Homo sapiens: one gene and its partners. The protein of the gene in region 2 interacts with the protein of the main gene of each other region in a pairwise test. Each region holds a gene or a part of one and is shown on either strand. Other genes may lie near its edges. The genes, in order: TCF7L2, CRX and BANF2.

Evidence for each region.
Region 1: the proteins of CRX (region 2) and TCF7L2 interact in binary tests that used the Homo sapiens proteins (3 or more experiments, as listed by UniProt).
Region 3: the proteins of CRX (region 2) and BANF2 interact in binary tests that used the Homo sapiens proteins (3 or more experiments, as listed by UniProt).

Annotation. Positions count from the first base shown.
Region 1 is NC_000010.11:113,163,163-113,166,911, forward strand, and holds part of TCF7L2 (transcription factor 7-like 2), read left to right. Parts: intron 1-2,392; coding exon 2,393-2,810; 3' UTR 2,811-3,749. UniProt on the Homo sapiens protein: Participates in the Wnt signaling pathway and modulates MYC expression by binding to its promoter in a sequence-specific manner. Acts as a repressor in the absence of CTNNB1, and as activator in its presence.
Region 2 is NC_000019.10:47,831,926-47,835,674, forward strand, and holds part of CRX (cone-rod homeobox protein), read left to right. Parts: intron 1-2,483; 5' UTR 2,484-2,518; coding exon 2,519-2,618; intron 2,619-3,749. UniProt on the Homo sapiens protein: Transcription factor that binds and transactivates the sequence 5'-TAATC[CA]-3' which is found upstream of several photoreceptor-specific genes, including the opsin genes.
Region 3 is NC_000020.11:17,723,834-17,727,582, reverse strand, and holds part of BANF2 (barrier-to-autointegration factor-like protein), read right to left. Parts: intron 2,561-3,749; coding exon of another isoform or gene 2,558-2,560; coding exon 2,432-2,557; intron 1-2,431. UniProt on the Homo sapiens protein: May play a role in BANF1 regulation and influence tissue-specific roles of BANF1.

The DNA of each region.
Region 1 (3,749 bases), on a different chromosome or scaffold from region 2:
ATACCCCTCTCATTCCTATGATCTGGAAACTTCCACGTCATGAGGGTGGGAGGGGTGAGGAAGGTACCAGAATGCTCCTAGCCAATCAGGGCTTCTAGCTTGCCACACAAGGTTTCTAGTTTCATTTGACATTTGTGGACATTTTAACAAGATTCTGTTTTGAGCCCACCAAGTTGCTTTTCCCATCTTTTCACTCTGCCCTAATATAGCATGGAATGCTGCTTGGTGCTGTTCCCTTGTCTTCCTGGTTGTTCTCCCTGCTTCTTTCTTTCTCCCTTTCCTTTCCTCTCTCTGTTTTTCTCTGTTGCTTTCTCAGTTTTGCTTATGCCCTCCCCCTCCCCACCTCCTTTCCTTCTCCCATTTTTAAAATGCATGGACATCTTAGTTTTTTGAGCATGTTTTGATCTGCAGGCTAAGGTGGTTTAAAACTCTGAGAGGCTTAATTATTTATCTTGGTTTCTGGGATGGAAGCAGAACCCATAGTCTATTTACTCTCTCCCAGGGAGAAAAAGGAACCTTGCCAAATTGAGGGTGAGAGGGGGTGGTGCTTGCTCCCCTAGAGTTCCTTCTGACCCAGAAGGAACAGACAGACCCTGAGGCCACTAGCCCCCATGAATCTCAGCCTCTGGGAGGCAGGGAGGACTGAGCATGCTCCCTTACACCCCTCCCCTCCTTCCCTGCCTTCCTGCCATCTTGCTGAGTCCAAACCCCAAGCACAGAGGGGCATGATCAGACAGCTCTGGGGCACAGACTGAGAGGAGGAACTCAGCACACCCTTCCTTTCCAAGGCCAGTGACATTGTCTGACAGTGGTTGCCTTCAAGCAGGCAGCATCTTGGTTGCTTCCAGCGGCAGAAAGCTGGCCAGTGCTTACACACGTGTTTCCAGTTGGAGTGTTATCAGCCATGGTTCTGACAATATTCTAGGGTCCTTAGATGAGCACACTTCCTGTATCTGCATTATTTTTATAGCATTAGTGGGGTTGATCCCCAGGCTCACCTTTCCTTACCAAATACCATCCCATCAGACTGGGATTAATGGGAGGAGAAGCTTTGAAGTCACATGCTCAATTTCTTGAGTTGATTTTCCCCGACCTCATCCTTTGATGCTAAGCAAGAAGGGCTCTGAAATTCTCATTCCTATTTCTTACATGAATGAGTAGTGAAGAGGGGAGATGCTGGTTTTGGTGCAGGGCAAAATTAGTCTTTCTGGTTTAAACACGAATCACGATAACCCAAACCCAGGAAGGTCCATGCTGCGATTCCCTGGCACTTCTTCTTTGTAGTCACTTCGGTGACCGGCTTGTGCTGCACCCTCCATTGACTAGCCTTGGCATATTGACAAGAGCAGGATGCCCCTCCATCCATCCCATCCTCACCATCTCTCCTTCCAACCTTCTCACTACGGGGTGGGGGAGGGGAAAGCCCCAAATCTTAAAAAAAAAAAAAAAATCAAGTTTGAATCTTAATTTAATCCACAACCTGCAGGCCATACAACCAGTTATTCTCGTTCCTTTGAATCATTTTCTGTTTTTCTTATTCTTCCCCCTCCCCCACCTTTGTTTATCCTCTTCTACCTGTTTTTGGTGGTTTCTTTTTTTTGTTTCGTTTTTTGTTTTTTGTTTTTGTTTTAAGTTTATTTTGTTTTATTTTTGTTTCCCTTCCTCCCTTCTCACCTGATTCTGACCTCTCTTGATTTGGTGTGGTTCTTAACAGACAAGCCCGAAAGCTCTCTGGGCGCCAGCAGCCTCATGGTGGTGGTGTGTTAAAACCTTTAAGCCTCTTGCTAGCGCTGCCTTCAGCTATGTGGGCTCAACAGTGAGCATTTTGAGAGTTTCATATTGATACGAGGCGGCTGGGGAAGGAGCTCTGTCTTTCTCTTTTAAACACACACACACTCACACTCACACACTCACACACACACATCACTGGGGGATGGGGGTGGTAGTGGTGGGAATGGGAGTGAAGGGCCGAGGAAACTTGATGGGAAAGTGAGGGACTGTCTAAGCCAAAAGAGCTTTTCAGTTCTTCTCAATTTGGACAAAGCCACTTTTTGGCAAATAGATGCCACCATCTGCAGGTGGCCGCCTCCATGCTGCTCTCGTATATAATTTGGGCATGGTGGGGCATGGGTGTTTAGTAGGGGTTGGGGGAAGCAAGTAGAGAGTTCAGACTCTTAAATAAGTTGTTTGCCAGAGCAGGCTTAGATCTGGGCACTGTGAAGTAAGCGACCCACCCTGGGGGGGCGCCACTGTAATTGTCCTCGGACCACTGGGCGTGCCACCTCTGTGGGACATCCCTTAGGTGACCTCAGCTTGGGTGTGAGCATTAGGTAACTCTCTCCCTTGGCATCTGTGCCCTCTATTCACAGATAACTCTCTCCCCTGTTTCTAGGAGAAAAAAAAAGTGCGTTCGCTACATACAAGGTGAAGGCAGCTGCCTCAGCCCACCCTCTTCAGATGGAAGCTTACTAGATTCGCCTCCCCCCTCCCCGAACCTGCTAGGCTCCCCTCCCCGAGACGCCAAGTCACAGACTGAGCAGACCCAGCCTCTGTCGCTGTCCCTGAAGCCCGACCCCCTGGCCCACCTGTCCATGATGCCTCCGCCACCCGCCCTCCTGCTCGCTGAGGCCACCCACAAGGCCTCCGCCCTCTGTCCCAACGGGGCCCTGGACCTGCCCCCAGCCGCTTTGCAGCCTGCCGCCCCCTCCTCATCAATTGCACAGCCGTCGACTTCTTCCTTACATTCCCACAGCTCCCTGGCCGGGACCCAGCCCCAGCCGCTGTCGCTCGTCACCAAGTCTTTAGAATAGCTTTAGCGTCGTGAACCCCGCTGCTTTGTTTATGGTTTTGTTTCACTTTTCTTAATTTGCCCCCCACCCCCACCTTGAAAGGTTTTGTTTTGTACTCTCTTAATTTTGTGCCATGTGGCTACATTAGTTGATGTTTATCGAGTTCATTGGTCAATATTTGACCCATTCTTATTTCAATTTCTCCTTTTAAATATGTAGATGAGAGAAGAACCTCATGATTCTACCAAAATTTTTATCAACAGCTGTTTAAAGTCTTTGTAGCGTTTAAAAAATATATATATATACATAACTGTTATGTAGTTCGGATAGCTTAGTTTTAAAAGACTGATTAAAAAACAAAAAGAAAAAAAAAGCAATTTTGAAGCAGCCCTCCAGAAGGAGTTGGTTCTGTATTATTTGTATTAAATACGAGCTTGCGAACCAATCATTTTACATCTGGTTTTTAAACCGTAAGGGCACCATGAATGCAGTGCCGTTACTTTTTTTTTTTTTTTCTGTGTGAAACAACTCTTATTGTGATGTTACTTGTTATTGTTTAAATGTACAGAAACAAAGGGTAAAAATGTGTTAATATACCTTGTTCCATGGTGTTGTTCTTTTGGGGGGAGGGGACGCTACTCAACACTTAATAGAATCACAACGCTGTTGGGCCAGTAGTATTTATTGCTTTAGAGATTGCTTGTCGTACCTGTATGTCGTCCCTTTTTAAATATGTTTTCCTTTTTCTTGAAACTGTATAAAGTTTTTTTCCCCCTTAGCATAAGCATCTTATATATAACAACTCATTTGTACAAGGTTTTTAAGTTTATATATAAAATGTGTATATATATTTTTGTTTCCCCTTTTTGACTTTTTTTTTTCTGTATGAAACCCAGATGTCACCAAATGGACATTAATAGTTGCATTAAGGATCAGTAGCATTAACAAAAGTTGCTTTAA
Region 2 (3,749 bases):
GAGACGTTTCACCATGTTGGCCAGGCTGGTCTCGAACTCCCGACCTCAGGTGATCCGCCTGCTTTGGCCTCCCAAAGTGCTGGGATTGCAGATGTGAGCCACCACACCTGGCCCCTAGAACAATTTTTTAAAACTATATAATGGAGATCTTTTAAAATCAGTTCAGAGAGCAGCCTTATGTTTTTTTTTTTTTTTTTTGAGACGGAGTCTCGCTCTGTCGCCCAAGCTGGAGTGCAGTGGCTTGATCTTGGCTCATTGCAACTTCTGCCTCCCGGGTTCAAGCGATTCTCCTGCCTCAGCCTCCCGAGTAGCTGGGATTACAGGCACGCGCCACCATGCCCGGCTAATTTTTGTATTTTCTGCAGAGACGGGGTTTCACCATGTTGGCCAGGCTGGTCTCGAACTTCTGACCTCTGGTGATCTGCCTGCCTTGGCCTCCCAAAGTGCTGAAATTACAGGCATGAGCCACTGCGCCCAGGCTTACTTTAAAAAAAAAATTAATTTTTTGTAGAGACAGGAGAGTTTCGCTATGTTGCCACCTGAACATAAATGCTATTTTCTTTTTCTTTTCTTTTCTTTTTTTTGAGACGGAGTCCGTAGCCCAGGCTGGGGTGTGGTGGCACCATTTTGGCTCACTACAGCCTCCGCCTCCCAGGTTCAAGCGATTCTCCTGCCTCAGCCTCCCAAGTAGCTGGGACTACAGGCGTGCACCCCTGTGCCCAGCTAATTTTTGTATTTTTAGTAGAGACGGGGTTTCACCATGTTGACCAGGCTAATCTCAAACTCCTGACCTCAAGTGATCTGCCTGCCTTGGTCTCCCAAAGTGCTGGGATTACAGGTGTGAGCCACTGCGCCTGGCCCATAAATGCGATTTTCATTCCCATTTTCCAACAAGGCGACTGAGGTATACATTGAAGGTGAATTACTAGGACAAAAGAAAGATGGCATTTTACTTCAATAACAGTTTGTTACAACCTGTACTGCTACCTATCTGCCATGGGAGTGTGCCTTTCCCCACACTGACACCAGTGCTGGAAGTTATCAACCTCCTTCATCTTTGCCAACCTGATAGGTCAAAAGTGATCATGGAAGATCCACACTCGCTTTTTTTTTTTTTTTTTTTTTGAGATAGGGGTCTATTTCTTTTTCTTTTTTCAGAGATGGGGGGTCTCACTATTTCTTTTTCTTTTTTTCAGAGATGGGGGTCTCACTATGTTGCCTAGGCTGGTTTTGAACTTCTGGGCTCAAGTGATTCTCCTGCCTTGACCTCCCAAAGTGCTGGGATTACAGGTGTGAGCCGCCTTGCTTAGCCCTTACTGTCGTTTTTTTGTTTGTTTTTGTTTTTGTTTTTTTGTTTTGTTTTGTTTTGTTTTTGAGACAGAGTCTCGCTCTGTCGCCCAGGCTGGAGTGCGGTGGTGCGATCTTGGCTCACTGCAACCTCTGCCTCCCGGGTTCCAGTGATTCTCCTGCCTCAGCCTCCCAAGTAGCTGGGATTACAGGCACCCGCCACCACACCTGGCTAATTTTTGTATTTTTAATAGAGATGGGGTTTCACCATGTTGGCCAGGCTGGTCTTGAACTTCTGACCTTAGGTGATCCATCCATCTCAGCCTCCCAAAGTGCTGGGATTACAGGCGTGAGCCACCTTGCCTGGCCCTTACTGTTGGTTTAATGCCACTCTCCCTTAGGGTGACCAACCAATCCAGTTTGCCTGGGACCATTCTGGCTCTAGCACTGAAAGTCCTGTGTTCCAAGAAACACCCACCTCTCCTCCAACCTGGGCAAAGAGGGACGGTTGGTCAACCTGCAGTCCTGGGTTATAAGTGAGGCTGAGCGTGTTTGCCCATGGTCAAGAAAGAAGGGATCTTGGATGAGGGTGTGTAACAGGATCAGATTTGTTTTGTTTTTTTCTTAGAGTCTTGCTGTGTCACCCAGGCTGGAGTGCAATGGCCTGAACACAGCTCACTGCAGCCCCAAACTCCTGGGCTCAAGTGATCCTCCCACCTCAGCCTCCTGGGTAGCTGGGATTACAGGCATGCATCACCACACCCAGTTAACTTTTTAAAGAACACTTTTTTTTTTTTTTTAAGAGACAGGGTCTTGCTATGTTGCTCAGGCTGGTCTCAAACTCCTGGGCTCAAGTGATCCTCCCGCCTTGGCCTCCCAAAGTGCTGGGATGACAGATGTGAGCCATTGTGCCTAGCCAGGACGAGATTTTTAGAGGGTAGAGTAGGAATAAGAGCTTGCACTTATGAGGCACATGATGGCTTCAGCTGTCTGCTTTGCAGAGTCTCAAGAAAGCTCTGAGAACCTTAAGCAGAGGCCATTTTACATGTGAGGACACAGAGGTACAGAGAGGTGAGATAAATGGCCAAGGTCACATACCTAAGAGGAGAAGGAGGCAGGATTTGAATCGCAGCCTGCACGTCACCCCATGGTGAGTAACTGGTAAGTGAGTGAGCATCCCTCCTCTTCTCTTGCAGGCCCCCTGACTTGGGCCTCAGTGTCCCCGAAGATCATGATGGCGTATATGAACCCGGGGCCCCACTATTCTGTCAACGCCTTGGCCCTAAGTGGCCCCAGTGTGGATCTGATGCACCAGGCTGTGCCCTACCCAAGTGAGTACAGTCGTTTCTCTTGGCACCCCAGGCTGGCCTCATCTCTTGGAGGACCTCTGGGGTCCCTTTGCCCCCAGGAAGAAGGCAATCACAGGGGCGACTTCAGGGCCATACACCAGCCCTCTGGGTTCATCTGAAATGTATGTCACTTAGAAAAACATTAGCAGTCCTAGAAATTCAGGACAGAGGTTCCTTTTGGGGTGAGGAAGAGGGGATGTAATCTGGAAGGGGAATCAAGAGGAATTTTCATCTGTTACCAAAACTTTATTATTTATTTATTTTTCAGAGACAAGGTCTCACACTCTGTCACCCAGGCTGGAGTGCAGTGGTGGTGGTCACGGCTCACTGCAGCCTCGAACTCCTGGGCTCAAGCAATCCTCCCACCTCAGCCTCCTGAGTAGCTGGGACTGCAGGTGTGAGCCATTGTGCCTAGGCCCGGGGGGCACTTTTTTTTTTTAATTTTATTTTTGAGACAGGGTCTCACTCTGTTGCCCACTCTGAAGTGCAATGGTGCAATCACAGCTCACTACAGCCTCGAACTCCTGGGCTCAAGCGATCCTTTTGCCTTGGCCTCCCAAATAGCTAGGATTACAGGTGCACGCCACCATGCCTGGCTAACTTTTTTAAGTTTTTGTAGATTTTGCAGGATCTGGATTATACAAAACATAGAAAAAATTATTATTATTTTTTTTTTTGTAGAGATTGGGTCTCCCTATGTTGCCCAGGCTGGTCTCAAACTCTTGGGTCCAAATAATCCGCCTGACTCAGCCTCCCAAAGTGCTGGGATTACAGGCATGAGCCACTGCACCTGGCCTGCAAAGCCTTATTTCTTTTTCTTTTTTTTTCTTTCGAGACACAGTTTAGACGGAGTTTCGCTCCTGCCCAGGCTGGAGTGCAATGGCGCGATCTTGGCTCTTTGCAACTTTTGCCTCCCAGGTTCAAGTGATTCTCCTGCCTCAGCCTCCCAAGTAGCTGGGATTACAGGCGCACACCACCATGCCCGGCCAATTTTTGTAAAGCCTTATTTTTAAGAGAAGTGAGTACTCAGTTATTTGTAGCATTATTCTTTAGCTCTTGTTTTTTTTTTTTTTTTTTTCAAGACCGAGCCTTGTTCTGTTACCAGGCTGGAGT
Region 3 (3,749 bases), on a different chromosome or scaffold from region 2:
TGGGTCTCCTCCTGGGTCTCACTACAGGCCCAGCCGGACTCCAGACCCTGATACAGGCTCTCACCCCCAAATTTAGTCTAAGCCTCCTCCCTGCCGGGCATAACCGCCTGGCCACAGATCTTCTTGTGCAATTTGTGACAGTACAATCCACGGCTGCTCCAGTTCACCTGGGAGCGGACAAGGCACTGCTCCTCGGAGCCCTTGTCTCCTCACTGGTAAAGTGGAGAGAGTGACCCTCATCTCAATCACGGGTGTGGGCGGCTCAAAGCGAAGGATACAGGTGACAGCCCCAGTGCCAGTGCCTAAAATTAGCAGCTCTAGGAAAGTGCTCACTGCACTGGCCAGGAGGTCATGGACACAAGAGGAGCACATCTCCAGGGACCCGGCTGCACACAGACAAACCGTCCCCACAGCCCTGACTCGACAGGCAAGTTTTCAGATGCCTAACATTTTTCCATTATTCATTCATTTTTTGTTCTAAAACCCACCCACCTATAATCCTCATTTAAAACACAGTTAAGCTATTCACACACACAGACTTAAACTGGAAAAGGCAACACTACAGAAAATAAATCAGTGGTTGCCAGGGACTGAGGCTGGTGAATATGAAGAGCACAAGGAAATGAATATTTTGAGTAATGGGATTGCTCTGTGTCTTGACTATGGTAGCGGCTGCATCACTGCATGCATGTGTCCAAACTCATAGAACTATGTACTAAAAAGGGTGAAATTTAATGTATGTATGTCAATTATACCTTAATAAAAACATTTTTAAAATAATGAGTATAGCTGAACAACAACCACAAAACCCCACAATTATGGACACATTTAATCAATGCTGTTTGACATCAGAAGAGTGGTTACCTCTAAGGATAGGGGATAGCCTTGGCCAAGAAGAGGCACAAGAGAACCATTTGGAATTTTGGAGACATCTGATTGCTGGATCTGGGTAGTGGGTACATAGGTGTACATATGTGTGTAAAAATTCATTGATCTGTGAATTCCTTTATATCAACACATATTCTCCTCGGTATGTTACATCACAATAGGAAAGTAAAAAGAAGAATGATTTCTTTTTTTAAAAAAGGAATTTTTCATCAGGTGTGATGGCTTGCACCTATAATCTTAGCACTTTGGGAGGCCGAGGTATGTTGAATCACTTGAGTCCAGGAGTTCGAGACCATCCTGAGCAACATGCCAAAACCCTGTCTCTACAAGAAACACAAAAAATTAACCAGGCATGGTGGCACACACCTGTAGTCCCAGCTACATGGGAGGGTGAGGTGAGAGGATCGCTTGAGCCTGGGAGGCAGAGGTTGCAGTGAGCCGAGATGGCATCACTGCACTCCAGCCTGTGCAACAGAGTGAGACCCTGTCTCAAATAAATAAATAAATAAATAATAAAAGTACAAAAATTTTTTCATTTAAAATTTGTTCCCCAGAGAATGGTTCTCCCTCCTTCGTCTGGCAGGAAAGAATCCAATCTACCCAATAGGGGCACTTCCATTTCTGATGATACCATCTACTGGACATTAAACTGGCTCACAGATTGGGGTGTTATTCTGAGTATTTACCAGCTAGTGCAGAGCAATGGGGTAATCAGAAAACCATGGCTCTCATGGTTCAGATGTAGATGCAAACCAAACTAGTCGTCAGCCATGTGTGCAGCAGTTCCCAGCCTCTTTGGGTGTTTCTGTAACACTGTCCCGCCTGGTAGACTGACTTGGGGCACTGAGGAGAATGAAGAGCAACAGCTCTAGCTGGTGCCTCTCCTGACCGGGCGTGCCATGTTCTGTGAGTTCACAGCCTGCCTTGTCTGTGCTCACTCTCTTTGCGTTGTCTTTGGGACTGTCTCATCCTCTCCTGAGGCCCTAAGCAGCTTTTTAAAAGCCCCATAAAAACAAACAATGACGTAGAAAAGAATATTCCAATTCCACTGGATATCCTTGAGGTCATTCTTGGGCTGAGAGTGACATCATAGAATAACTCACTCTAGTGTAGACCCCAGGCTCCTGTTTCTTCACCTGCCCATTGCCAGGCTGGTGCCCTGGCAGGGGCAAGCGAGATGCCATGAGTCCCTTCATGGGGGCATGGAGTGCACCTAAATCATCCATCCTGACAGCTCATCTCAGACCCCGGCGGCTGACCTACTTCTGTTGATCCCTGAGTGTTTGAACACCAAGTGAATCATGCCTAGCCCAGCTGCTCTGAACTGAAGCCATTCTATGTGTATGTGCCCATCATCTGCAGGCCCTTGAGGCTGCCTGAGCATGTGGGGTCAATAGCACGAAAGCATGTGGCACCCCGCCAAGCGGCAGCTTTGCTCTCTGATGGCCCTTCACAGGGACACGTGGCAGGAACTGCCATCTGGCAGGACTGGGGGAAGAAAGGTAGGGAAGAGAAGTCAGAGAAGTAAGAAAATATGAATTACCTTATTGATACCTTTGGTGACCAAATTGATCGCGAGCTCATGGCTGATGCCATCCACCCAGCAGACATCCTTTTCTCCAATGGGTTCGGAGAGGAAGGCTCTCAGCCTGGGAGACATGTTGTCCATCTCCTGCGACAGCAGTGGGGAGAGAGGAGGATTAGCAGATACCTGACTTCTCCCAGTGTGCATGGACACTGGGGAACTCCCTCAGCCCACCAAGGGACTGGGGCAACAGATGGCAGAATTCCTTCCATCATCCAGCATTTCCCGGGGTCTACTAAATGCAGGTGCACTGGCCTCCACTAAGGCCTTCACACATCCATTCCTACCTGGATGGACAAACAGAAGCCGAATGATGGCCACAGATGAGTCAAATAAATTTCCACGAAAAGAGTGTGCTTAATATTAAGAACTGCAGTGGGTTCTTTCCAACTCACCCCATTCTAAATGCCTAAAGCAACAACTTACTTCTCTTAGCTAATTAACCCACCTTCTCTCTTAACCACCCAACACTTTAGTCATACTTTTATTTCAGTGTTCATCACACTGTATAATAGTGTAAACTCTCTAGAAACTCTTCAAACTGGCTCAAATTGTAAAGAACACATTATAGAAATCCAAAGCCTGCAGGTGGGAATGGGTCGCAGCGCCATTCCTCAGGGATTGTCCAGCTTTCCCTCCTTGTGTTGGCTTTATTCTTGCTTGGCTCCCCTCATGGTGGTGAAAGGGCTGCTCCAGCACTCTTTGGCCTCACCAACTCCACCTCAAAAGAAGGAAGAGAAGGTGGCTTTTGCTTAAGTCACCTCATTTGTTGCCTGTGCTCTAACTTTAGCCAGATAAATCAGCTTTCCCAAACAGCAGGACTTGCTCATCAATTTCCTGCAACTTTAGATTGCAGGCCCCAGGCAAAAAGACTCTCTGTCTTAGCAAAACTATTTTCATCCCTCTCCACTTTTAAATGGACCACCATCTCCCAGGAGTTGAGTCTCCTAGGACCTTAATGAAGACTGCCAGAGGTAGCTAACATCCTGAATATTTCCTGGAAGATCTCGAAATATCATGGGTTCCATAAGCATTAGGTCTGCATCCCAGCAAAACCGGCCATTTTGTTAAATGAGGGTTGCCATCTTCCAGTTTTTTGTTTTGTTTTGTTTTTGTGATGAAGTTTCGCTCTTGTTGCCCAGGCTGGAGTGCAATGGCATGATCTTGGCTCACTGCAACCACTGCCTCCTGCGTTCAAGCTATTCTCCTGCCTCAGCCTCCCGAGTAGCTGGGATTACAGGTGTGTGCCACCACACCCGGCTAATTTTTGTATTTT